Homo sapiens: one gene and its partners. Changing the gene in region 3 together with the main gene of any one other region gives a genetic interaction. Each region holds a gene or a part of one and is shown on either strand. Other genes may lie near its edges. The genes, in order: PSMD1, SDHC, CTNNBL1, KCTD10, DNTTIP2, POLD1 and DCTN2.

What was found.
Region 1: changes in CTNNBL1 (region 3) and PSMD1 together harm fitness less than expected from each alone (positive genetic interaction), as found in Homo sapiens cells (one large-scale study listed by BioGRID).
Region 2: changes in CTNNBL1 (region 3) and SDHC together harm fitness more than expected from each alone (negative genetic interaction), as found in Homo sapiens cells (one large-scale study listed by BioGRID).
Region 4: changes in CTNNBL1 (region 3) and KCTD10 together harm fitness more than expected from each alone (negative genetic interaction), as found in Homo sapiens cells (one large-scale study listed by BioGRID).
Region 5: changes in CTNNBL1 (region 3) and DNTTIP2 together harm fitness less than expected from each alone (positive genetic interaction), as found in Homo sapiens cells (one large-scale study listed by BioGRID).
Region 6: changes in CTNNBL1 (region 3) and POLD1 together harm fitness less than expected from each alone (positive genetic interaction), as found in Homo sapiens cells (one large-scale study listed by BioGRID).
Region 7: changes in CTNNBL1 (region 3) and DCTN2 together harm fitness less than expected from each alone (positive genetic interaction), as found in Homo sapiens cells (one large-scale study listed by BioGRID).

The regions. Positions count from the first base shown.
Region 1 is NC_000002.12:231,168,367-231,171,866, reverse strand, and holds part of PSMD1 (26S proteasome non-ATPase regulatory subunit 1), read right to left. Parts: intron 1,302-3,500; coding exon 1,155-1,301; 3' UTR 1,146-1,154; intron 1-1,145. UniProt on the Homo sapiens protein: Component of the 26S proteasome, a multiprotein complex involved in the ATP-dependent degradation of ubiquitinated proteins.
Region 2 is NC_000001.11:161,359,381-161,361,543, reverse strand, and holds part of SDHC (succinate dehydrogenase cytochrome b560 subunit, mitochondrial isoform 1 precursor), read right to left. Parts: intron 1-2,163. UniProt on the Homo sapiens protein: Membrane-anchoring subunit of succinate dehydrogenase (SDH) that is involved in complex II of the mitochondrial electron transport chain and is responsible for transferring electrons from succinate to ubiquinone (coenzyme Q).
Region 3 is NC_000020.11:37,700,530-37,704,029, reverse strand, and holds part of CTNNBL1 (beta-catenin-like protein 1), read right to left. Parts: intron 1-3,500. UniProt on the Homo sapiens protein: Component of the PRP19-CDC5L complex that forms an integral part of the spliceosome and is required for activating pre-mRNA splicing.
Region 4 is NC_000012.12:109,470,801-109,474,300, forward strand, and holds part of KCTD10 (BTB/POZ domain-containing adapter for CUL3-mediated RhoA degradation protein 3), read right to left. Parts: intron 1-3,500. UniProt on the Homo sapiens protein: Substrate-specific adapter of a BCR (BTB-CUL3-RBX1) E3 ubiquitin-protein ligase complex. The BCR(BACURD3) E3 ubiquitin ligase complex mediates the ubiquitination of target proteins, leading to their degradation by the proteasome.
Region 5 is NC_000001.11:93,872,707-93,876,206, forward strand, and holds part of DNTTIP2 (deoxynucleotidyltransferase terminal-interacting protein 2), read right to left. Parts: intron 3,078-3,500; coding exon 2,939-3,077; intron 509-2,938; coding exon 413-508; intron 1-412. UniProt on the Homo sapiens protein: Regulates the transcriptional activity of DNTT and ESR1. May function as a chromatin remodeling protein. Part of the small subunit (SSU) processome, first precursor of the small eukaryotic ribosomal subunit.
Region 6 is NC_000019.10:50,408,347-50,411,846, forward strand, and holds part of POLD1 (DNA polymerase delta catalytic subunit), read left to right. Parts: intron 1-360; coding exon of another isoform or gene 361-438; coding exon 439-555; intron 556-775; coding exon 776-889; intron 890-1,172; coding exon 1,173-1,320; intron 1,321-1,594; exon of another isoform or gene 1,595-1,678; intron 1,679-3,500. UniProt on the Homo sapiens protein: As the catalytic component of the trimeric (Pol-delta3 complex) and tetrameric DNA polymerase delta complexes (Pol-delta4 complex), plays a crucial role in high fidelity genome replication, including in lagging strand synthesis, and repair.
Region 7 is NC_000012.12:57,537,193-57,540,692, forward strand, and holds part of DCTN2 (dynactin subunit 2), read right to left. Parts: intron 1,333-3,500; coding exon of another isoform or gene 1,327-1,332; intron 1,156-1,326; exon of another isoform or gene 1,061-1,155; intron 1-1,060. UniProt on the Homo sapiens protein: Part of the dynactin complex that activates the molecular motor dynein for ultra-processive transport along microtubules. In the dynactin soulder domain, binds the ACTR1A filament and acts as a molecular ruler to determine the length.

The DNA of each region.
Region 1 (3,500 bases), on a different chromosome or scaffold from region 3:
TAGAATGAATTGGCCGGGCGTGGTGGCTCACACCTGTAATCCCAGCACTTTGGGAGGCCGAGGTTCGCGGATCAGCTGAGGTCCAGAACTTGAGACCGGCCTGACCAACATGGAGAAACCCTGTCACTACTAAAAATACAAAATCAGCCGGGTGTGGTGGCGCATGCCTGTAATCCCAGCTACTCGAAAGGCTGAGGCAGGAGAATCGCTTGAACCCAGGAGGCGGAGGTTGCGGTGAGCCAAGTTTGCGCCATTGCACTCCAGCCAAGAGCAACAAGAGCGAAACTCCGTCTCAAAAAAAAAAAAAAAAAAAAAAATTGTCTGAAAACGTGTTTGTGCTTGGGTGGAATTAGGAAACCTTGATTATGTCTCACAATGTCTTCAAATATGTGATGAACACTCAAAAGAAAATGGGGAAATGAAGAACGACAATTTCATGAAATTAGATTACTCCAAACTTTCCCATCTAAAGACCCCTTTCAACACTGTTAAGACACTGATATAGTAAATGATCTTTGTCAATGGACACAGCCTTGTGGTTAGTCTAACTGACCTCAAAGTCCCTATAAGCACTATGTCTTATACACAGTAGATATTCAATAGCACCATCATAGAATGAATGAATGTTAAGGCTTCTATGCCAAAAATACTGTCGAAGGAGATGGGGAGAGAGAAAAATCAGTGAGAAGCCTATATTTGTGCTACTCAAAAGTGTCACCTATGGGCCAGTGCCAGTCCACAACTATAACTGATCCACAACAAGAAGCTTACATCAGAATGTAAATCAGCTCTATCACTAAGCAAACTGCAGTTCAGCTGATGTTTTGGGGAAGACTTTCTTGATGAAAGAAGCGTTGAGCAGACAGATTCTGGAGTAAGCTTCCTATCTCCTTATGGACCTATAAAAATAGTTTGCAGACCAGCCACTTTGAATAACGTGAGTAGAGTACGAGTCAAAGAGGAAAGAAAAAGGAATTTGTGGTTATATATGCAGAAAAAGGTTGAAACGGGGAAGTTTTAATACTGTTTAGGTAAATAAGGATTAAACACAAAAGGAAGGAAAAACGTGAGATGATGTCCTTGCAAAAAACATTTGTGAAGTATTGACAAAGAAGTTTCCCTTCATAATTTTGTTGCACACGCACCTCTGGCCCTTAATCATCAATATACTCAAATGGTTCTGGGGGTTCTGGCTCTTGTTCCTCCTCCTCGATTTTTGGGCCATGTGCTGCCACAGGTTCCACCAGCTCCTCAATGTCTTCACTGGTATCCTTCAGAATGATGATGCCTCCAATAGAGAGCTGGAAACACAGGGGCGTGCAGAAGCGTACACTCATATTTCAAGCGTGCTCCACAATCTAGAGTAAATACTTGTTAAATGGTACTTTAAAACTACTTAAATGATTTGGAAGTGAAAAACTGGAGTAGAACTTTACTGGGATAAAGATAACTGTGATCTATACGAAGTATTTGCAAACTTAACCCAGTAGCTCTAGATGGTATAACATGTGATGCTGTTCTACTTGGATGATGCATCCCAATTTAAGAATAGTTATTTCCCAGCCATGGCCTTGACTACCAGCCTCAGTCTCACTGCAGGAAGAATGTTTACTGTCCAAATATAGTATCCTAATTCCTTCCTACTCAAGATATGGTCCTGGGCCAGAAGCATCATTATCATCTGGAGCTTGTTAAAAATGCAGAAAAGCTGGCCCCACCCTAGATCTGCAGAATCTGCATTCTAACAAGATCCCAGTCAATCTGATGCACACTGAAGTTTGAGAAGCAGTCTAATGCACACTGTATGATTTGTGAGATGATAATCATTTTGAACACGAGAGTGTATAAATTAAAAGCCAATTTTTTCTCCAGCAATTTCAGAATGATGGAGAGAATAACACAGATATCCCGGGTTTTTCACTTTAATCTATAAATCCACGTGATGCAAGCCGATGAAAAAATACATGGGAAACAAAAGGGAAGTAGACTGTAGCAGCAATTCTATTAAGCCCTCTCCCAAACATATTACAGAAGGTAAATTCAAACACTAAACTATTCACCCCTCTCTAGTGTGCTAATCTTATTCTATTTGCTTGCCTGTGTCAAAGGAAATGGAAAGCTGCTCTATGTAATTAAATCAGTCAACAGTGGCAGGGCACATCTGGAAAAAGCATATTTCTACCAAAGCACATTACTGGGAAGGAAAAGAAGCACAAGTACATTAGTTAAATGATTCACGTATGTATAAGCATCTCTGCAGTTCAACCTAATCCAATTTTTACTCATCAGAACTCTGCCCTGCCATGCTATAAAACTGGTGTGCTTCGTGAACTCCGAACTATTTCCCTTCTCCTGACACACACATATCTATACATTTTTCTACAACCCCTTCCCTTAAAAAGTTTGCTTTCCTTGAAGAGGATCCATTTTATGAATGGACCCTGCCCTTACTGCCAATACTCCCAGAATGGAGCATAGGGCCACTGTCCTAATCCTCCATAGCCTAAAAGTTTACTTGAACCTAATGGACCAAATGGAGATGAATCTCCTACCAAACAGAAGAAAATATCCACGTTCACATGAGGACTTTCTATTTTTTGGAAAATGTGGATCCAGGTTATGCTATTTCATGCTTAACTGGAATGAAATAATCCAACTTAATCAAAGGAAGGCCTCATCATACAAAAACAACAGTAACACACACACAAAAAAAAATCCCAAAACTAATAATCCAAATCAACACATGGAAAGGGCTGTTTATAGCTATACATGGTCTAGGTTTGTTAATGCTTTACATGTTGGTGGGAAAGTTCACACCCTCTATGCATAAGATATACGATTTTCTGTTCTCTGGGGAGGCTAATTACAACTGTAGATATAGGCAATGAAACACTTCCTCTTGCCTCATGGTGGACAGGAAGCAGGGTAGGAATGTTACTTGTTTCCAAAACTACAGCTGCCTCTTTCAAATGCAGTGTCTGAGGAAGGGTCCCATGACCTTGCCACTGAGGGTAGGGGAGTGAGTCACTGCACATACACAGAGGCAGTGTTTTCTTTTTTAAAATGAGATATATTAACATAAAATTCATTCTCTCAAAGCGTACAATTTAGTACATTCACAAACTTGTGCAGCTATTAATACTTCTGCTATCTAATTCAAAAATATCTGCATCAACCTAAAGAAACTGTGGGCCCAGTAGCAGCCACTCTCCATTCTCCCCTTCCCCTGTCCTTGGTAGCCACCAATCTAACTCGTCTCTATAGATTTGCCTTTTCTGAATGTTTCACATAAAGGGAACCAGACCATATGCAGTCTTTTACGTCTGGCTTCTTTTACTTAAAATAATGTTTTCAAGGTTCACACACACTGTAGCATATATCAGTAAGTCTTTCCTTTTTATGGTCAAATAATATTCCATTATTATCTCACATTATTCATTCATCAGTTGATAAGACATTTAAGTTGTTTCCGTTTTATGGCTATTATGAATCATGCTGAT
Region 2 (2,163 bases), on a different chromosome or scaffold from region 3:
AATGCACACTGTGAATCTCCAAAAGAGAGATATAATATGCCTGATTTCCTAGATACAGTCAATCTCAGAATCTTTTTATAGAGGGAAACTCTATTTATCAGAGGACTAGTATTCTAAAGGATACTCTGAGATCTAGAACACTATTTCTCAATTTTGTTTTGACTGTGACTCCACTAAGAAATACCTTTAAAACTGGAACCCAATAGATATGTATATATAATATAGCAAAAGTTGATAAAACAATATTTACCATTACTAAGTGGTGCCATATATATACAAGTATATATTTATATATTTTATATATAAATAAACTTCATTAAAAAACATATATTTTCTCCTTTTTGTGGAGAACGGGGTCTCATTATATTGTTCAGGCAGGTCTTGAACTCCTGGACTCAAGCTATCCTCCTGCCTCTGCTTCCCTAAAAGCTGGCATTACGGGCGTGAACTTCTGCACCCAGCCACTCCAGTGGCGCCATCTTGGCTCACAGCAACGTCAGCCTCCCAGGTTCAAGCGATTCTCTTGCCTCAGCCCTGCCAGTGGCTGGGACTACAGGCGCATGCCACCATGCCAAGCTAATTTTTGTATTTTTAGTAGAGATGGGGTTTCACCATGTTGGCCAGGATGGTCTCAAACTCTTGACCTCAAGTGATACACCCTCCTCAGCCTCCCAAAGTGCTGGGATTACAGGCATGAGCCACCACGCCCAGCCCCAGCCTATATTTTCTATTCTATTTAAATTTCTTTTTTTGTTGGTAGCATGCCACTAAATTGGTTTTCTACCAATTGAGTTAAAACCCACTTTTCTTTTTAATACTAAAAAATAGAGATAGACTCTTGTTATGTCTTGCCCAGGCTAGTATTGAACTCCTGGGCTCAAGCAATCCTCCCGCCTCAGCCTCCCAAAGTGCTGAGATTACAGGTGTGAGCCATCTCACCCAGCCCCTACCCCACCACCCACCCCCACTTTTTTTTTTTTAATTTTTTGAGACAGGGTCTCACTTTGTCACCTAGGCTGGAGTGCAGTGGCACAATCTCAGCTCACTGAGGCCTTGACCTCCCAGGTTCAAGCAATCCTCCTGCCTCAGCCTCCCAAGTAGCTGGGACTACAGGCACCCATCACCATGCCCAGCTAATTTTTTGTATTTTTGGTAGAGATGAAGTTTTGCCACGTTGCCCAGGCTAGTTTTGAACTCCTGAGCTCAAGCAATTCACCTGCCTTGGCCTCCCAAAGTGCTAGGGTTACAGACATGAGCTACCATGCCCCCAGCCCCACATTTAACAAAACACTAATTTTGACTCTCTTGTGTCTTAGGGATATTAACATATTAATATTATATTATAAGTCACTAAATGAGCCCATGGGGCAAAAGCAGTCTTCATTTTCCACACTTCCCACATACATGGCGCCTTAACACACACATACACACATACACCCACAGTCTGAATGTAAAACTGCCTAAATTAGGAGTCAGTTCAGAGAAAAGATGGAAGCCCAGAAAAAAAAAAAAAAATCAAGATGAGAAGATGCCTCCACCTCAACCCTCAAATTGCTTCTAACTAGGAGATTAGGAGTCAAGCAGATTCCACAAAGAGTTGTTTTGCTTAAATAAGGACAATGTTTTATAGAGAGTGAGTCCTACTGGGTAGCAGTAGTAGGCAGGGATATTCCCTAGAATGCCACAGACCCTATAACATCCTACTCTTTCACTCCTCACTCCCCCATTAGATCTTCTGGCAAGTCAACTATCAAGTTCAGAGGCCAAAAACTGCAGACTGTCACAGAAAACACAAAATCCTGTCCCACACTCACAGCCAGTACTTGCTAGAAGAAAAAATAAAAGCAGACTTAAGGACCCTTAGGTTCTTCACTTCCCTCAACAAAAAGATTACCATCACAGGCAAGAACCAGGGCAGAAAAGCTCTAAGTTCTGCAATTTTATAAAACCTCCCCTCTCTTACCCCCATATTGAGACAAAGACAAATATAGGGCAAGTCTCTGTCTGAGCCAAAATATGAACAGAGGAAGCTGATCAGCTGATTTTCTTTACAGAGCTTTGTTCTGTGGAATAGGAAGTCATTAATGGAAATGTCCTCCCTCTCTACTGCCTCCCCCTCAGGGAAGTAAAAAGTCATTTTAAATCAAACTGAACACTGCCCCA
Region 3 (3,500 bases):
CGAGACAGGTGGATCACCTGAGGTCAGGAGTTCGAGACCAACCTGACCAACACGGAGAAACCCCGTTTCTACTAAAAATACAAAATTAGCCAGGCGTGGTGGCACATGCCTGTAATCCCGGCGACTCAGGAGGCTGAGGCAGGAGAGTCGCTTGAACCCAGGAGGCAGAGGTTGCAGTGAGCCGAGATCATGCCATTGCACTGGGCAACAAGAGCAAAACTCTGTCTCAAAAAAAAAAAAAAAAGTAAAGAACCTTGTCTTTCATCTTTGAGCCGTTTCATCTTTGAGAAATAGTTCCAAGGCTCCTTTCAAGTCTGCTGAACATCAACACCCCTGACTGAAATGCAAAGCTGGCCATGGGGATAGGCAGGGGAGGAAGCAGAGAATTATGTGATATCTGAACATCTGGCCAGAATGTTCAGTACACACACGAAACATTAATCAGGGACGGTGAACTAAGAGCTGTCTGCAAAAAGATGCTGAAAGGAAAAGAATGAATGAGTTCTTCTAAAATGATGAAGAAGAGAGTTACAGAGTCAAATTCTAGTGAAGATTCCAGAATAATGAGGCCCAAGAAAATCTTTGGCAAAAGACAGCACTGACAAGTTCAAGAATGTAGGTTTTGGACATTCTACAAAATAGCTGACCAGTACTCTTCAACATGAAAGATAACGGAAGACTAAGGAAATATGACAAACATTATGTGGGATCCTGGATAGAAACCTGGAACAGAAAAATGACCAGACATCTCTGATGGCATGTGAATTAAGTGTGCAGTTTAGTTACTAGTATTACACGAATGTTAATTCCCTAGTTTTGATCTTTACATAATGGTTATATGAGATGTTAGCTTTAGGGGAAGCTGGATGAGGAATATACGGAAACTCTACTATTTTTATAATTTTTTCTAAGTTTAAAATTCAAAATAAAAAGTTAAAAAGCAAAGAATATAGGTTTTGTAGCAAGAGTGGCAAGATATGATAATAAAGAAGAGGAAAATGATTAAGCAACTGAAGTATCAGTTGTGAACCCAATTTTCTTGAAGTCTGACATGAAAGCACAGAGATGTAGGCCAACAAGCTAACAAGATAGTAGAACAAGAGCTTTCCAGAAGGGGAAACAACCAGGGCATATACAAAGGCATGTCCCAGTTCATTCAATCATTAAACAACCATGTATTAGACATTAACTACAGTTGAGATGCTCTGCTAGGTGCTGGTCCTTGCCTCTAAGTCTACAGTTTAGTAAAAAGTGTGTGTAAGGAGGCATATAAATAGAATGTGTTTTGTAAGTGTGAGAAGAATGGGCCAGAAGAAAGAGATGATGAGAAGAACGCAGAGGGAGGAAGTGAACTTAAGGAAAAAAATCACTCATGAGATGAAAGAGAAAAACAGTCTGAAATGTTATCAATGAGAATAGCTCTGTATCTGTTCTGGTCCTCCTTATCTGTTAGAGTCACACTTCCAACAAAAAGTAACTTCAAAATGTACTAAACTGACATGCAAAAAGAGCCTATATAAAATGACTTCATGATTAGAATCATATTCTTAGGGCTACTGGGATGAGGCCTTCACAGAATGAAGGATGTATCTGAGCACCAGTTTTCAGATTTTCAGTAATGTTTCTTATACACACAACAACAACAACCAAAAAACCCATATAACAGAAAAACTCAATTACGAAATTACAATGACTACCTTATGAGGCACATAATAATACAAATGATAAACTCACACAAGAAGAAAATAATGCTTAATAAAGCAACCTTGAACTAGTATTTAATATACCTAGTAGATTAGTGGAAAAAATAAATTATGAACTAGTACTATCAAGATTGTAATAAAACTGGGGCCAGCCACAGTGGCTCACGCTTGTAATCCCAGCACTTTAGGAGACTGAGGCAGGAGGATAGCTCAAGTCCAAGAGTTCAAGACCAGCCTGGACAACACAGGGAGGCCCTGATTCTATTTTTTAAAAAAAGGTTGTAATAAAATTGGAACACACACAAACAGTATACTGTTAGCACTGTAAAACAACCAATGATTCATTCCACGTGCGTACGATGTATTACGCCACACATCTGCAGCTGAGATGAGCGTACAATGTATTACGCCACACATCTGCAGCTGAGATGAGCGTACGATGTATTACGCCACACATCTGCAGCTGAGATGAGCGTACGATGTATTACGCCACACATCTGCAGCTGAGATGAGCGTACGATGTATTACGCCACACATCTGCAGCTGAGATGACCCCCATCGTCTCCGACCACTCCCTGCTTTTTACCCATTGCTGCATTTACCCTATGCTTTGAACATTTCACTACCCTGCTTTTGCTCTTAATAATGCCAGTCAAGAATCACTGTCCCCAGTGTCCTTTACCACCCACAGAATCCCTACCCATTCATCAAGGCTAGGATTCCAGTGTCATCTCCCTTTTCTTCAATGACCAAACCAAATCCATCCCCATCGATATATCCCCTTTCCATATCCAACCGTTCCTTCCATTGTGCTCCCATAATACTTTTATTCATAGAGTTAGTTTTCTAAATGTCTGTCTTGCTCCTTACATTATGAATTCTTCTTTAATGTCCATGGTCCATGTCATAATAATTTTAGTGCATGCAATACTTGGCACAGGAGATGGCACATGGTAAATACTAATGACAGATGGGAAGGAAAAAAATGCTACATGAACAAAGCACTTCACTACAATGTTATCTCCAAGAACAAAAACCGGAAAACCACCTAAACATCCAATTGTAGAAGAACAATTTAGGGAAAATGGTCTATCACTCAAGCAAAAAGTATGCAAATATTAAAAATAACATGAAGGAGATGTAGAAACACAGAAAATATTCCTGGCAATGTTAAATTAAAAACATAGAACATAAAGTAGTATATATGCAATGGTTCTAGCCTCACAAAATACGTAAGGACTGTGGGAACAGAAAAATATTGATTGAATTAGGATAATAGTTTTCCTCTTCTCAAGCATTTTCTTTAATACTATTTCTATCACTTTATTATCATTTAAAATTTTATTTCAAAAGAAAAAACTAGGAGGGGGAAAGGAGCAAGTTTAGATATTTCTGTAAGCTCCTGCAATCCAAGAGATATGCTAAGATATTACTGATAGAGGACAAGAGGAGTGGGTGTCTGCAATATCACCAAAACCAAGGGTCCCTTAGCCTCAAATTTGCCTCAAAAAGAATACATCTCATGTCACAAGCCATACTAAATGTGAATTCTTTATTGGAAAACTTCAGAGGTAAGAACTTTTTCCAGACATCTGTGGAATCAGATTTAATGAGAGTGCCCTGGAGTTCATATATGCGCCTATGCCAGCAGAAACTTCTCAGCCAAGGCACTGCTGGGCACACTTCTTGATGAGATGTCTAAGCCTGAAGGCATCAAAAAAGTACATTTCCATATTGGGAACATAACTGGTTCCCTCTTGAAGACTTTTTCCACCACCTCCTGCCCATATTGTAATT
Region 4 (3,500 bases), on a different chromosome or scaffold from region 3:
AATAGGAGTTATAGCTGCTGCTTTACCAATGAGAGGTTTAGCCTCCTTCCATTCTTCCTGCTTTCAAGTCAGGAATCACTGAGACCCAATCACAGAATTAGCCCTGCTTCCCAGCAGCATCCAACACAGAGCAAAGCCCCACTTCTCTGAACTGTCTCTCAAATCACCCAACACAAGCCCACAGCCCTTCTCTGAGATGTCCCACAGTTCTTCCCCACCCCAATGCAACAAGGAAATAAACCCAACTTTGCTTGACTACAGGTATGCTCCTCGTGCTTTTTGGCTGCAGGGCACTGACAGCACATAACTTGTTTGAACTATTCCCTGAAACTGAAAAAGAATTGTCTAGCTTTTCCAGATTTTCTATAATGAATGGGTACTACAACTATAACTGGTAAAACACAAACGTTATTTTTGTAAATGGGACTGGGAGTAAAGGGAGGCAGCTTGCAACAGCAGAAGCAACGCGACAGTCATGGACAATATTCAATTCAAGGTTATCCAACTCTTCTGGCCAACTCTCCCCAACTCCATGGCACCCAACAGTGGCCTGGATATCACCTGCCATGTCAGGGCCCTGCAGAGTGAAACAGAGAAAGAACGGCCTCCTGGAAAGAAATGTTTTCTCAAGAAACAGTTCCTTTTTCATCAAGAAAAGTCACAAGAAAATATGTTTTCAAAAGCTCAGGCTTAGCTCACCTGGGGTCTTTGCTGCCCGATGCCAAACACAAAAGAGGTCCAGAAGAAGCAGTTACCCCTCCTTTCTAGCTGTCCTCTGAAATCAGTCCCCAGAGACCTCACACTAACAGTTATGACCAGCCACCTCCCTCAGAAAAATCCTTTGTCCATGGGATGACAGGAGTAGCTTATGGAAATAAAAGTTTCCAAAAACTGTGAAGACCTCGAAGGGGGGGAGAAAAGGCTTACGGTCATGGGTGAGGGTGTGTGTTGAGGAAATTTGCCCCAAAATGCAAATACTTTTTAAGCACCCCTTTCAGATCTAATTTTATATAATAAATGCTTGTTATGGGAAACGATCTAGCATTTTGGAAGGTGCCTATCATGAAACAGACAAAAAAGTACATAAAGTATACTTCATGTAAAGTCAAAGCACAGTAAATATGTGATATGAAGGATTTTTTTCTAATGGCATACTTGTATAGGACACTTACCATGAATGGAGTGTGTAGGCCTGGAAATTGCTCTGGGTGAGCGAGTGGTGAGTAAATGTGAAGGTCTAGGACATTACTGTACACTACTGTAGCTTTATCAACACTGCACAGGGAGGCCACACTACATTTATTTAAAATATTTTTTCTTTCCATAATAAATTAACCTTTGCTTACTGTAACTTTTTACTTTAAAAACTTTTTAATTTTTTTTTAACTTTTGGACCCTTTTGTAATAACATAGCTTAAAACACATATTGCACAGCTGTACAAAAATATTTTCTTTCTTTATATCCTTATTCTATAAGCTTTTTTCTCTTTTTTTACTTTTTAAACTTTTTTATCCAAAACTACAAAATACACACACATTAGCCTAGCCTACACAGGGTCAGGATTATCAGTATCACTGTCCTCCACATCCTGTCCCACTAGAAGGTCTTCAGGGACAGTAACACGCATGGAACTGTCATCTCCCGTAAGAATCCCTTCTTCTGGGATACCTCCAGAAGCACCTGCCTGAGGCTGTTTTACAGTTTTCACTTAAAAAAAAAAAGGCAGGTAGGAGTATATTCTAAAATAACCATTAATAGTAAATACATTAACCAGTGATATATCTATCAAGTTCATTACTATTATCGACTATTATGTACTGTACATAATTGTGTGTGCTAGACTTATACAACTGGCAGCAAAGTAGTTCTGTTTACACCAGCATCACCACGAACACGTAATATGTTGTGCTACCACTGAAATGACAGCTACACTATCACTGGGCTACAGGAATTTTTCAGTTCCATTATAATCTTAAGGGACTGTTATATACGCAGTCTGTCACTAACCAAACTGTCATTATGTGCGCATGACTGTACCTTTTTTGGCTTTCCAATACCTTTTTAAAGATAATTTGCACATAATGAAGTATACTTTAAGTGTACAGTTTGATGTGTTTTGGTCAATACTTGCACCTGTGTAGCCCCCACTCCAATCAAGCTGTCTTGGAACATTTCCATGCCTCCAGAAAGCCCCTCGGTGTCCCTTGACCACTGCATTTCTACCACATGCCTTTTACAAATTCAAACAATGCTGGAAGACAGCTATAGTTATTTCCATTTTGTGGATTTGGATGCCACAGCCCCATCAGGGTCAGTCACTCTCAAGCTGGAGTTGAGTCAGTGACGGGGCCAGTGAAGGACATGGGCAAGTGGTGGCTGGCCCAGAGACCATCACACCTAGTAGATTGAGAGCTATGATACATAAGCTGAGAAAGGCCAGCCTCACCTCCCTTCTTTAAAAAGTACAAAAAGCCCTGAAAATAGTCGCGAGGTAAAGTGTGGCTAAGGGTTTGGAGTTAGACCTGTGCATAAGGCCCCAGCCCTACCACTTAGTAGCTGTGTCCAGGGCCAAAAGCCTCACCTCCCTCACAGGGCTCCCTAGCTCTGAGTAAACACTCCAAACACTCAAATTATGATGATTTGAGAATGCTCCCGAAGTCTCAAACTATCTTCTCTTTGGAAACTGTTTCCAGCTCTAATGGCAGACGGCATGACTAAGAGATAAAGGCAGGAGCCATCCTGATCTAGAATGAGACTACAGATTAGGCAACAAAAGCTCTAAACCTTTTCAGAGCTCACCCTCTCCAAAGGTCAGTCAACCTAATAGTAGGCAAGGCCCTTGGGGGAAAAGTTTTGGCAGCATTCGTGTCCTTGAGCCCAAGTTACAGTGAACTTAGGACACGAGGCAGTGGACCAGAGACCCCCACCATAGCAAACCTCTCTAGGGAGGACTCTCCCCACTGTTGCTACTGGAATCCTGCTTTTTTTTTTTTTTTTGAGACTGAGTTTTGCTCTTATTGCCCAGGCTACAGTACAACGGCACGATCTCAGCTCACCGCAACGTCTGCCTCCCAGGTTCAAGCAATTCTCCTGCCTCACCCTCCCGAGTAGCTGGGATTACAGGCATGCACCACCACACCTGGCTAATTTTATATTGTTAGTAGAGATGGGGTTTCACCATGTTGGTCAGGCTGGTCTCAAACTCCTGACCTCAGGTGATCCTTCTGCCTCGGCATCCCAAAGTGCTCGGATTACAGGTGTGAGCCACCGCGACTGGCTAATTTTGTATTTTTAGTACAGACGGGATTTCTCCACATTGGTCAGGCTGGTCTCGAACTCCCGACCTCAAGTGATCCATCTGCCTCGGCCTCCCAAAGTGCTGAGATTACAGGCATGAACCACCGTGCCTGGCCAGGATCCTGCTTTTTGACTTGTTTCAAAGGTTTGATTTCATTACCAATGAAGCTGGGGAGGTGAAGCAGGAGACAGCAAAATTGGT
Region 5 (3,500 bases), on a different chromosome or scaffold from region 3:
AACTCCTACAAGTTATTTAATTTTGTTTCATTCATACAACAAGTATTTAGTTAGTGCCTACCATGTGCCAGGGTGCTCCATATTACAGTAACATTACTAGAATACCATCCTCAACTTTCCTTCAAGCTCTCTGGATAACTAGTCGAAATGGCAGATAGAAGTAATCTATATATATATATATTTTTTTAAAAAACCTCTACTTATAGATGCACTATTGTGGCTGCAAAGATGTGAAAATCTATACATAATGTGTTTATGGTACTATATTTTACAGCCCTTAGAAATCTGTAATTATTTTCTTTGGACTCATATATAGACCAACAGATACAGTTTAATTGTGCAGTTATGTTGTATAAGCTGAAAATATATAGCCAAACATATCTAAGCATTTTAATTAAGTCACTGTACTTACTCTGCGTTTTTTCTGAAGTTGATACTTTGATTCACTATATGGTGGAACACAGTGGTTTTTTTCAAAATCAGGTGTAATGACGGCTTTCTGCAGAAGCTATAAAAACATAAAATTGGTTTTAAAATAATGTCAGAATGTTATATAAGTTTTTCAACAGTTTAAACTTCTGTAAGTTTTAAAATTTTTAGTCAGCCTGGCAAAGTGGCTCACACCTATAATCCTAGTGCTTTGAGGAGGCCAAGGGAGGAGGATCACTTGAGGCCAGGAGTTTTAGACCACCTTGGTCAACATAGCAAGACCCTGACTGTAAAAAAAAAAAAAAAAAGAAAAGAAATTAGTTGGGCATGGTGGCACACACCTGTAGTCCCAGCTACTCAGGACGCTAAGGCAGAAGGATCACTTGAGGCCAGGAGCTTGAGGCTGCAGCAAGCTATGACTGTGCCACTCACTCCAGCCTGGGTGACAGAGTGAGACCCTGTCTCCCCCCAAACCCAGCTCCCTCCCAAAAAAAAAAAGAAAAAAGAAAAAAAAGGCCAGGCACGATGGCTCATGCCTATAATCCCAACTCTTTAGGAGGCCAAGGCAGGACAATCACTTGAGGCCAGGAGTTCAAGACTAGCCTGGGTAACATAAGAAAACGCCATTTCTCCAAAATAAATAAATAAATTTGTGCAGTCAAATCTGTTTATCTTTTCCTAAATGATTTCTGTACTTTTGTTACTTGACTAGGATGATTATATTCTCCTAAAACTCTGTGTGACTAAAGGAACCTCAGGTTAATTAGTATTTTTCTCAGTACAAGAACCAAGTAAGACTGCTCTGTAGCCCTCAAAATAGTTTACAGGAATATAGTACAAGCATTAATTTGGGACTGACATTTGAAATGATCAACTCAGAAATTAACAGTCAGGCACACAATTCAGGTTCAGGCCTAGATGTTTCTGTGTGGTATAGGTAGCCGTCTAGGCTTTCCTATCACTCATAAAAGGGGGCATGATATTTACTTAACAAATGATTAAGAGTTTGCTGTGAGTCAAGTACTGTAGTACATTCAAGGACAGTGGTTCTCAACTGGGAGCATCTGGCAATGTCTGGAGACATTTTTGGTGGTGGTGAGGATAAGGAAGAATGCTACTGACATCTAGTGGGCAAAAGATAGGGATGCTGTTAAACATCCTACTATGCACGGAACATCTCACAACAAAATTATGCAGCCCAAAACATCAGTAGTGCTGAGACTGAAAAACCCTGTTTTAGGAATATAAAGAAAAGATGGTAAGTTAATATATCACATGATCAACAATGAATCAGATCTATGCTAGATGTTATGGAAACAGAGGGGTTGTGAGAAGGACTGGAGGTAAAATATTCCCCAAGGGCAACGATCAATTATTTTGCACTTGCTTGGGGAAAAGCAGGGTAAGTTCAGGCAACTACAGTAGTCTTCAGTGGCAAGAATAGAGCAGATGACAGCTGGGTGGGGTAGAGAGGTACTTTGAAGGATTCAAGAGAATACTGTCACATCTGTGTGTGTGGTGTGTTTTTTGGGGCAGGGAGGAGAGATGTGGTCTAGCTATGTTGCCCAGGTTGGTCTCAAACTCCTGGGCTTAAACAATTCTCCTGCCTCAGCCTCCCAAAGTGCTGGGATTATAGATGTGAGCTACCTTGCCCAGCCGGATTTGTGTTTTTAGACAGAGAAATCTAGAAGTGTGGAGGATGGCTTGAAGAACAAGATGAAAACAAGATCAATAAGGAAGCCACTGGAGTAGTCCAGATGAGAAGCAAAGGCCTGCACTAGCTGGTGACAGTCGCTTGAAAAGGAGGAAGCAGAGAAATATCTTCCCCTAGAGGCTTGGTGACTGACTACAAAAGGAAAAGAGAGTTTGGTTTCATTAGCCAGAAAAAAGAATACAAGAAGAGGATTCCTGGTTCAGGCAGGGAAAGGGGAATTAGTGACGTCAAGTACCTGAGGACATCTAAATGAACAAATAGGTACTTGGATTTAAAGGTCTGAAAGTGACAGTGAGAAGCATCAAGGCTAGAAAATATAGATTTAGGAGAAAACAGTGCAAGGTGTTGGCTAAAGCTAAGGGTTTGGGTAAAGTTACCTTAACAGTAATTCCTTCTGAAATTATATGTAAAATGTCTATATGCACATGTGCATTTTTTTCCGGGTGGAAGAGGCAGGCAGGCATTCACAGCTTTCAGATTCTCAACAGTCTACACTAGTTAAGAACTTAAGAACTAAAAGTATAGCAAGAAAAGGGAAAAAAACAAAACCCCTGGGATCATAATTGGTGGGTGTAAGATGAGGAACACTGACCCTGTATTGATTTATTTTTAAAGCATTATCATTCATAGATAGGATTTTATTGTAAAAAGAAATGACTGTTTTAGAGAGAAGGAAAAAACTAACACATTAGGCCAATGTGGTTTCACTGTAGGAAAATTAAGTCTTTTACCAAGGACTAATTTCTAAAAGTGATTGGTTAGTTCTGTGAAAACCTAACAGCACAATTAACTTACCTCATTTTTCTTTTTCTCCTTGATCTGTGTTAGGGTTCTCTTGTTAGACTGTAGTTTATCTGCATTAAAATTAATATACAAACCACCCAACTGCTTGATACTCAGACCAGGGTCTATGCTGCTGCTTGTCAACTTCAGACTGAAAAAGAAATCATCACTTAAAGATCAAGTAATTAAATCAAAATGGAAACATATAAGATGGCATTTTAAAAAATCACTTATTCTTCTCTTCCCTTGTATTGTCCACAATAAAGAAAAAAAAGCATCTTATTTTTATGAGGAATTCCTGAAAAAAAACTCTAAATAAATATATTTTTCATCATTTTATTTTATTTTTTGAGACAGGGTCTCACTGTTGGCCCAGGATGGAGTGCAGTAGTGACCACTGCAGCCTTGAACTCTTGGGACTCAAGTGATCCTCCTACCTCAACCTCCCTGGGTGGCTGGGACTACAGGTGCACACCCAACACCTGGCTCCATAATGTCAAATGAATGAGCCATTCCATGAAGAACCCAAGGCAGTGATTTTCTCATTCCCCAGGCTAACATTTCATATTTTTAT
Region 6 (3,500 bases), on a different chromosome or scaffold from region 3:
ATAAAATAAAATAGTAGATTAATTATATATATTATTTTTCTTTTTCTTTTTCTTTTTTTGACACAGGGTCTCACTCTGTCACCCAGGGTGGAGTGCGGTGGCATGATCTTGGCTTACTCCACCTCCTAGGCTCAAGCAATCCTCCTGCCTCAGGCCCCTGAGTAGCTGGGACCACAGGCGTGCACCACCACACCTGGCTAATTTTTAAAATTTTTTTGTAGAGATAGGGTTTTGCCATGTTGCCCAGGCTGATCTGAAACTCCTGAGTTCAAGCGATCCTCCTGCCTCAGCCTCCCAATGTGCTGGGATTGCAGGAGCGAGCACTGCTCCCAGCCAATGAATGATTTTTTTTTTTTAAAGGGTGAGGCCACAAGACAGGGCGGGGGCGGCATGGGAACTCCTAGCCCTGACTCCCGGCCGCGGCTGCTCCCCTCCCAGGTACTACGACGTCCCCATCGCCACCCTGGACTTCTCCTCGCTGTACCCGTCCATCATGATGGCCCACAACCTGTGTTACACCACGCTCCTTCGGCCCGGGACTGCACAGAAACTGGGGTATAGTGCCCAATTCAGCATGTGTCCCCCGAGGCCCATCTGGGCCTTCCCTTGGGGGGCTCAGTCTGGTGGGGGGCATAGGCACAGGCCCAGAGATAGTAGGGAGTGGAGGGGTGCTTGAGGGGCCTGCGTGTGCTCATGGCCAAGGCCAGGACCGTAGGGCAGAGGTGGGCTGGAGCAGGAGGGTGGCCGGCAGTCACCCCAACATCTTCCAACCCAGCCTGACTGAGGATCAGTTCATCAGGACCCCCACCGGGGACGAGTTTGTGAAGACCTCAGTGCGGAAGGGGCTGCTGCCCCAGATCCTGGAGAACCTGCTCAGTGCCCGGAAGAGGTGAGCCCTGGAGATCGCCTGCTTGGAGCTCAGACCTGTTGGGGCCTCTGGGCAATCCCTGTCCCTCACTGGGACACCCCAGGGCTGCCCAGCCACCCTGCCCTCAGCTGTGCGTGAATTAGCACAAGGCATCCCCTCCTGGCAGCTTCCTTTTGCCCCCTTGGCCAGAAGCTTCTGTGCAGTGCACAGTACGCCCAACCGTACATGGCACTCACTTCCAGAAAGGAGCCCTGACCAATGCCCAGGTGCCGCCTGAGTGTGCTTTCCCCGTGTTCCCTCGCAGGGCCAAGGCCGAGCTGGCCAAGGAGACAGACCCCCTCCGGCGCCAGGTCCTGGATGGACGGCAGCTGGCGCTGAAGGTGAGCGCCAACTCCGTATACGGCTTCACTGGCGCCCAGGTGGGCAAGTTGCCGTGCCTGGAGATCTCACAGGTGGGCACTCGGGCCCCTGGAAGGCAACTGGGGGCAGGTGGGCCCCCTGTGTAGGAGACCAGGGCTCCATGTGGGGGACCTGTATCCAGAGGACTGGGCACCCCAACTCACTGGCCTTCTAGAGAGAGGATGCCAATGTGGCTTGAGCAATTGGTCCATTCCTTCACTCAGCAAATGCCTACTGAGCACACACTGTGGTCAGGGCTCACTCTGTGCCCTGGGGATACAGAGGGGAACAAAATGGATGAGAGCTCCTGTCCCTGTCATCTTGCAGCCCAGTGGGGACACTGACAGGTCTGTGTAAACGTGTTTAGGACACAAGTGGCGCTACGAGCTTTGCAGCCGGATAAAGCAGGAGGTGCGGACTGTCGGGGAGTGATGGGGCTGGGCGGGACTCACCCCTCTCAATAGGCGACGCTCACACAGAGGCCAAGGGACGTGGGGAGGGAAGCCATTCACCGTCCCCACGGCAGCGTCCCGGTCTGCCTACCCACGGCAGCTCTGCTGCTTGAACAGAAAAACAGATTCTTTGAAACCACAGAGGGCCTGAGTTTCCGAGATTGCCAAGCTGGGGTCAGTGCCCCAGCTCCTGGCATATGAGGGCCTCGGAAGGGTCTTCCTGTCCAGCCTTCTCCCCTGGGACTTGAGTCTTGGCCCATTCCAGGCCAGTAGTTGTGCTGCTCTGCTTGGTTACCTCTAGCCACGGGGAGCTCCCTCTCTGGCTGGGCACTGCGCCACTTTTCACAGGGCTCTGGGTGGAAGGCTTGGATGAATTCTCAGTGGGTGGGGCCTTTGCACACACCCACCCACCCGCAGTTCTGGGGGTCCCAAAGACCACTTAGGTTCAGTGATTCACTAGAAGTACTCAGAGAGCAGAAAAGCTGGTTCTCATGGTTATGATTTAATACAGCAAAAGGACACAGATTAAACTCAGCAAAAGAAAGAGGTGCACAGGGCAGGGTATAGGAGGGACCAGGCGTGTCTTCCAGTTGTGCTCTCCCAGTAGAGTTGCCAGGCTGGCCCTCCTTCCTCCCAGTTTTGATGCGTGCCTGCACACATGCAGCATTGCCAACCAGAGGCTCTCACCCAAGCTTTGGGGTCCAGGGTTTTTCTTGGGTGTCAGTCCTATAGGCATGGAGCACCCTGTGACTGGCCTTAGTGACTCCATCATCCCCAGGCCCCTCAGCAACCCCCAGAGGTCAAACTGATACTGCATGGCCCAGGGCCCTACCATAAACCATGTTAGTGTCAACTACCTGGTGTGGTTCAAAGTCCCAGGTACACAAACACCTTTTTTTTTTTTTTTTTTGAGACAGAGTCTCACTCTCTCACCCAGGCTGGAGCGCAGTGGCACAATCGTGGCTCACTGCAGCCTCAACCTCCGGGACTCAGGTGAGCCTCCCACGTTAGCCTCCCAAGTGGCTGGGACTGCGGGCACGTGCCACCTATTTTTGTTATTTTTTGTAGAGATAGGGTCTCGCCATGTTGCCCAGGCTGGAACAGAGACACTGTTATCAGGCGGGATATTCTAGGGGCTTAGACTACCAGGAGCCAGGCAAGAGCCAGACCTTTCTTTGCACAAAGTGAATCGCTCACTGCATGCTCCCAACTCCCCTCTGCCTTTCACAGTCCCCGGCTGCCTCCCCAGCCTCCTTGGTGGAAAGGGGTGGCTGTGTGGACATCAGGCTCTAGCCCTGAAGCAGAGGCCAGGCCAAGAGAGCACAGCTTGGCCCTCCCCTGGGGCTGCCTCTTACCAATCCTGTGTCTCTGTCTTTTCTCTCTCAGCCGCTTCCCTCTGTCACTGTTCTGTTTCTGTCTCTTGACCTCTTTCCTTATTTCTGTCTCTCAAGCTTATGGGAGCAAGAGGTGGAATAATAAAAATGCAATGAATTGGCTGGGCGCGGTGGCTCACGCCTGTAACCCCAGCACTTTAGGAGGCCGAGGCGGGCGGATCACGAGGTCAGGAGTTCAAGACCAGCCTGGCCAACATGGTGAAACCCTGTCTCTATTAAAAATACAAAACATTAGCCAGGAGTGGTGGCAGGTGCCTCTAATCCCAGCTACTCGGGAGGCTGAGGCAGGAGAATCGCTTGAACCCAGGAGGCAGAGGTTGCAGTGAGCCGAGATTGCGCCAGTGCGCTCCAGCCTGGGCAACAGAGCAAAACTCCGTCTCAAAAAAA
Region 7 (3,500 bases), on a different chromosome or scaffold from region 3:
GTATTGTGGCACGTGCCTGTGGTCCCAGCTACTCAGGAGGCTGAGGTGGAAGGGTCACTTGAGCCTGGCAGGTGGAGGATGCAGTGAGCAGAGATCATGCCACTGCACTCCAGCCTGGGCAACAGAGTGAGACCCTGTCTCAAAAAAAGAAAAAGAGAGAGAGAGAAAAGAAAAAAAAAAAAAAAAAAAGGCCTGGGCCCACTTCTAGAGATTCTAATGAATTATTCTGGGGTAGGGCCAGATATCCAGGTGATTCTAACCTACAGCCAGGACTGAGAATCTCTGCCTGTGTGTAGGTATGTGGGGAGAGGGTGTGAGGGGGACATGGTGGGACATCATTGAGAAAGAAAAGCAGATAGAAGGAAGCTCCTTCCTTCATCTCTGCTCTGCTATTAGAGCAGGAATCAGTGTGGGTGACAGCTTTAAAAATAAGGGAAGAAGGAAGGAAAGGACAAAGTATCAACTTTGATCTTTACCTCTTCCTCAGGGAATTACTGGGCAGAGGGGTAAGAGCTATAGATCAAGGGAAAACAAAAGGACTCAATGTCCCATATGCAAGTGCCCGGGGGGAGAGACATTTGAGTCCCAAATGATTATCTCTTTAACCTGTTCTGAAATGTTACGGCCAGAACACCCACCCATCTAATAGCTGTGTGATCTCTGGCCTCTTATCAACTGGGAAGGGCTCAGGCTAAGGATAGACAACCATCTTCTCTGAAGTTCATACTCAGGAATATGCCACTTCTCCCTGTGAAAGCCCCAATCCAGGCCAATCCCACCCATCCTCTTTTGTTTAATCCTCTTAAAAAAGAGGAATGGGAGGCATAACCTACAGACCCAGGAAAAAAATTAATCATAGCTACCATTTGTTAAGCCCTTATTATGGGCGGGCACTATGCAGATGGAACCTACTTTCTTATTTACGTTCCTAAGTAGGGAAAGCGGGGAGTAGAAGAGGGTCAACACATAGACGGTGAGTCTCAGAGGTTCTGGACAGTCACAGGGACAGAGAGCATTTTCATTCCTGCTGTGGGAGAGTGTCCTGGGCCAGTTGGGCTACCTGGCGCTGGCATCCTCTGGAGCCTCTCCAAGGCTGTGGCCCGGGAGCACACTCTAGTCCTCCAGTAGCACCTACTCCAGCAGTGTCTTGAAGATCTGGGGCATGAGTTGGGGGCAGTATAATTACAGTGACTTGTGAGATAGGAAAAGGCTGGGTGTGGGACTGAATAGATGAATGAAAGATTTAGTAGAGTCTAAAGGACAGAGAAACAACTGCTCATCATAGCACACCCCGTTAAAAAGCAGATGAAAGGTCAGGCTTCTTACCAGCTCCTTGTGGTTTCCCCAGAGGTGAGAAAATCAAAAGAGTTAAAAGGAAAGGGAGTGGGGGAATGGGGATGAGGGAGGGAAAAAAAAGACAAAATTGTTATTAGCAAATTGTCACATGCACTACATGACAGTCTTCCAACACACTGCACCACAGGGCCCCAGGGGAGCCTAGCGAAATTTAGGGGCCAAGAAATTTCAGCTGGGGTCACCATATACCCCAAGAGAAAGAAGAGCATGAGACCCTTTTCCCTCTGGTGGTGAGGATGTCATGAAGCTTTGCCATTAACAGCAGCAGTTTAGGATCATCTGAAAACTAGGAGTTAGATGTTACCAGCCAGTGGCATGGAATAAGAAACTGGGGAGAGAAGGCTGAGGTGGTGGGGAAGCTATTAGAAATGGTAGAAGATGAAGCAGAAGTTAGAAATTCTTAGACTTGTAGCTGATAGAGGGTCAATAATTCTCAGGAGAGGAGTTCCCCTTCTTAGTTCATGGCCCTTGTCTTCCTATCTCTTAGTTTCTCTAGCTGTGAAAAATTAGACATTTGGATGGCAGAATCAGTCACAATGAGAGTGATCAGGTAGGAAGTCTGATATGACTTTAGGTGAGACAAAACAAAATATGTCAGGTACAGATGGTGAGTTAAAGGAATGATGAAGTACCTAAGTATAGCCCCGTTCTCATTTCCTCCTGCAAGGGAAGAGGCAGAGCTGCTCCTGGTCCCTTGTGCAGCCTGGCATGTTTGCCTCCACCTTGAGTGGCTGGTAACTCACCCTGCAGCTCCGAAGGATCTAGAGCAATTCTGCCATGATGTACTTACACAGAGGGTCCAGGGGACATCAAGATTCACAGGTACTAGCACATGTGCAGAACATGTTTCTTCAACCCTCTGTTCACAAGATTCACAGGGGTTGGAGGGTAAACAAAGGGGAAGGGTGAGAGTATTTCCAAGAGGCCTTATTTGAGTCTGGGCCACATAGATAAGGCTCCCACTTCCGGGCAAGGCTGGTTTAGAACTGCCAGAAGGGGATATCCAGTGGTATGTCCTGCCTTTCTAGGAGCTCTGCTGATGGGCAGATGGTTGAGGATGGTTGTATGCATATGAAAAACCATGGTGGGATTAAAAACAAGTGCTTCCTTTCACCAAGATTTCATCCAGATACCTCTTAATCACAACCTCTCTGTTCCCTAGACGATGCTAGGGTCCCAGCCAAGATTCCTCTTTCCACCAGGCACGGTGTCTCACATCTGTAATCCCAGCACTTTGGGAGGGCGAGGTGGGTGGATCACTTGAGGTCAGGAGTTCGAGACCAGCCTGGCCACCATGGTGAAACCCCATCTCTACTAAAAATACAAAATTAGCCAGGCATGGTGGTGGACGCCTGTAATCCCAGCTACTCGGGAGGCTGAGGCAGGAGAATCATTTGAACCCGGGAGGTGGAGGTTGCAGTTGAACCCGGCAGGCGGAGGTTGCAGTGAGCTGAGATCATGCCACTGCACTCCAGCCTGGGTGACAGAGTGAGACTGTCTCAAAAAAAAAAAAAAAATTCCTCTTTCAGCTCAGGGTAGAGGTGGCTCCAGATCCTGTGGTCGAGGCTGGGATGTCTCTGCATAGAGTGGGTGTAAGCACCCATAAGTGCAAACATGCAAACACAAAGGAGAAGTACACACACTATACCTTTCTCTGATTTGTCCCACCAAGCTAAAACCAGCTTGGGAGAAACTCAAGGAGAGAAAGAAGACAATGGGCCATAAGCTCAATTTCAAACCATGCGGATTGGGCAGAATAGGGAGGACAGAAAATCAAATAAAAGGAAAAGTGGTATATTAGTTTGCAGATAGTATATACCACCTCCAGGTCTGTCCTATGGGTGGGTTGAAGGTTGATGAGATTTTAGGCATGATTCCTGCATAACCTGGAGTAGTACTAGTCACCTTGATTGGAAGATTTCAAGTGCCCTGGCCCCGGGTGCCAGCTTACCTAGTACGTGACTCCCAGTCTCTTTCACTAAGGGACTCCCAGACCCCCCAGGGCTGTTTGGCTAAGTGGCTGTGCCTCAGAGGGCAAGATCTGAGGTTCTAAATCAGACAGGGAAAGTGGCCACTGTTACTCTCTGAGCCTATTCAGGCTGTACGCCAACACTGCAGCCAGGGTACTTCAAAACCATGATGAC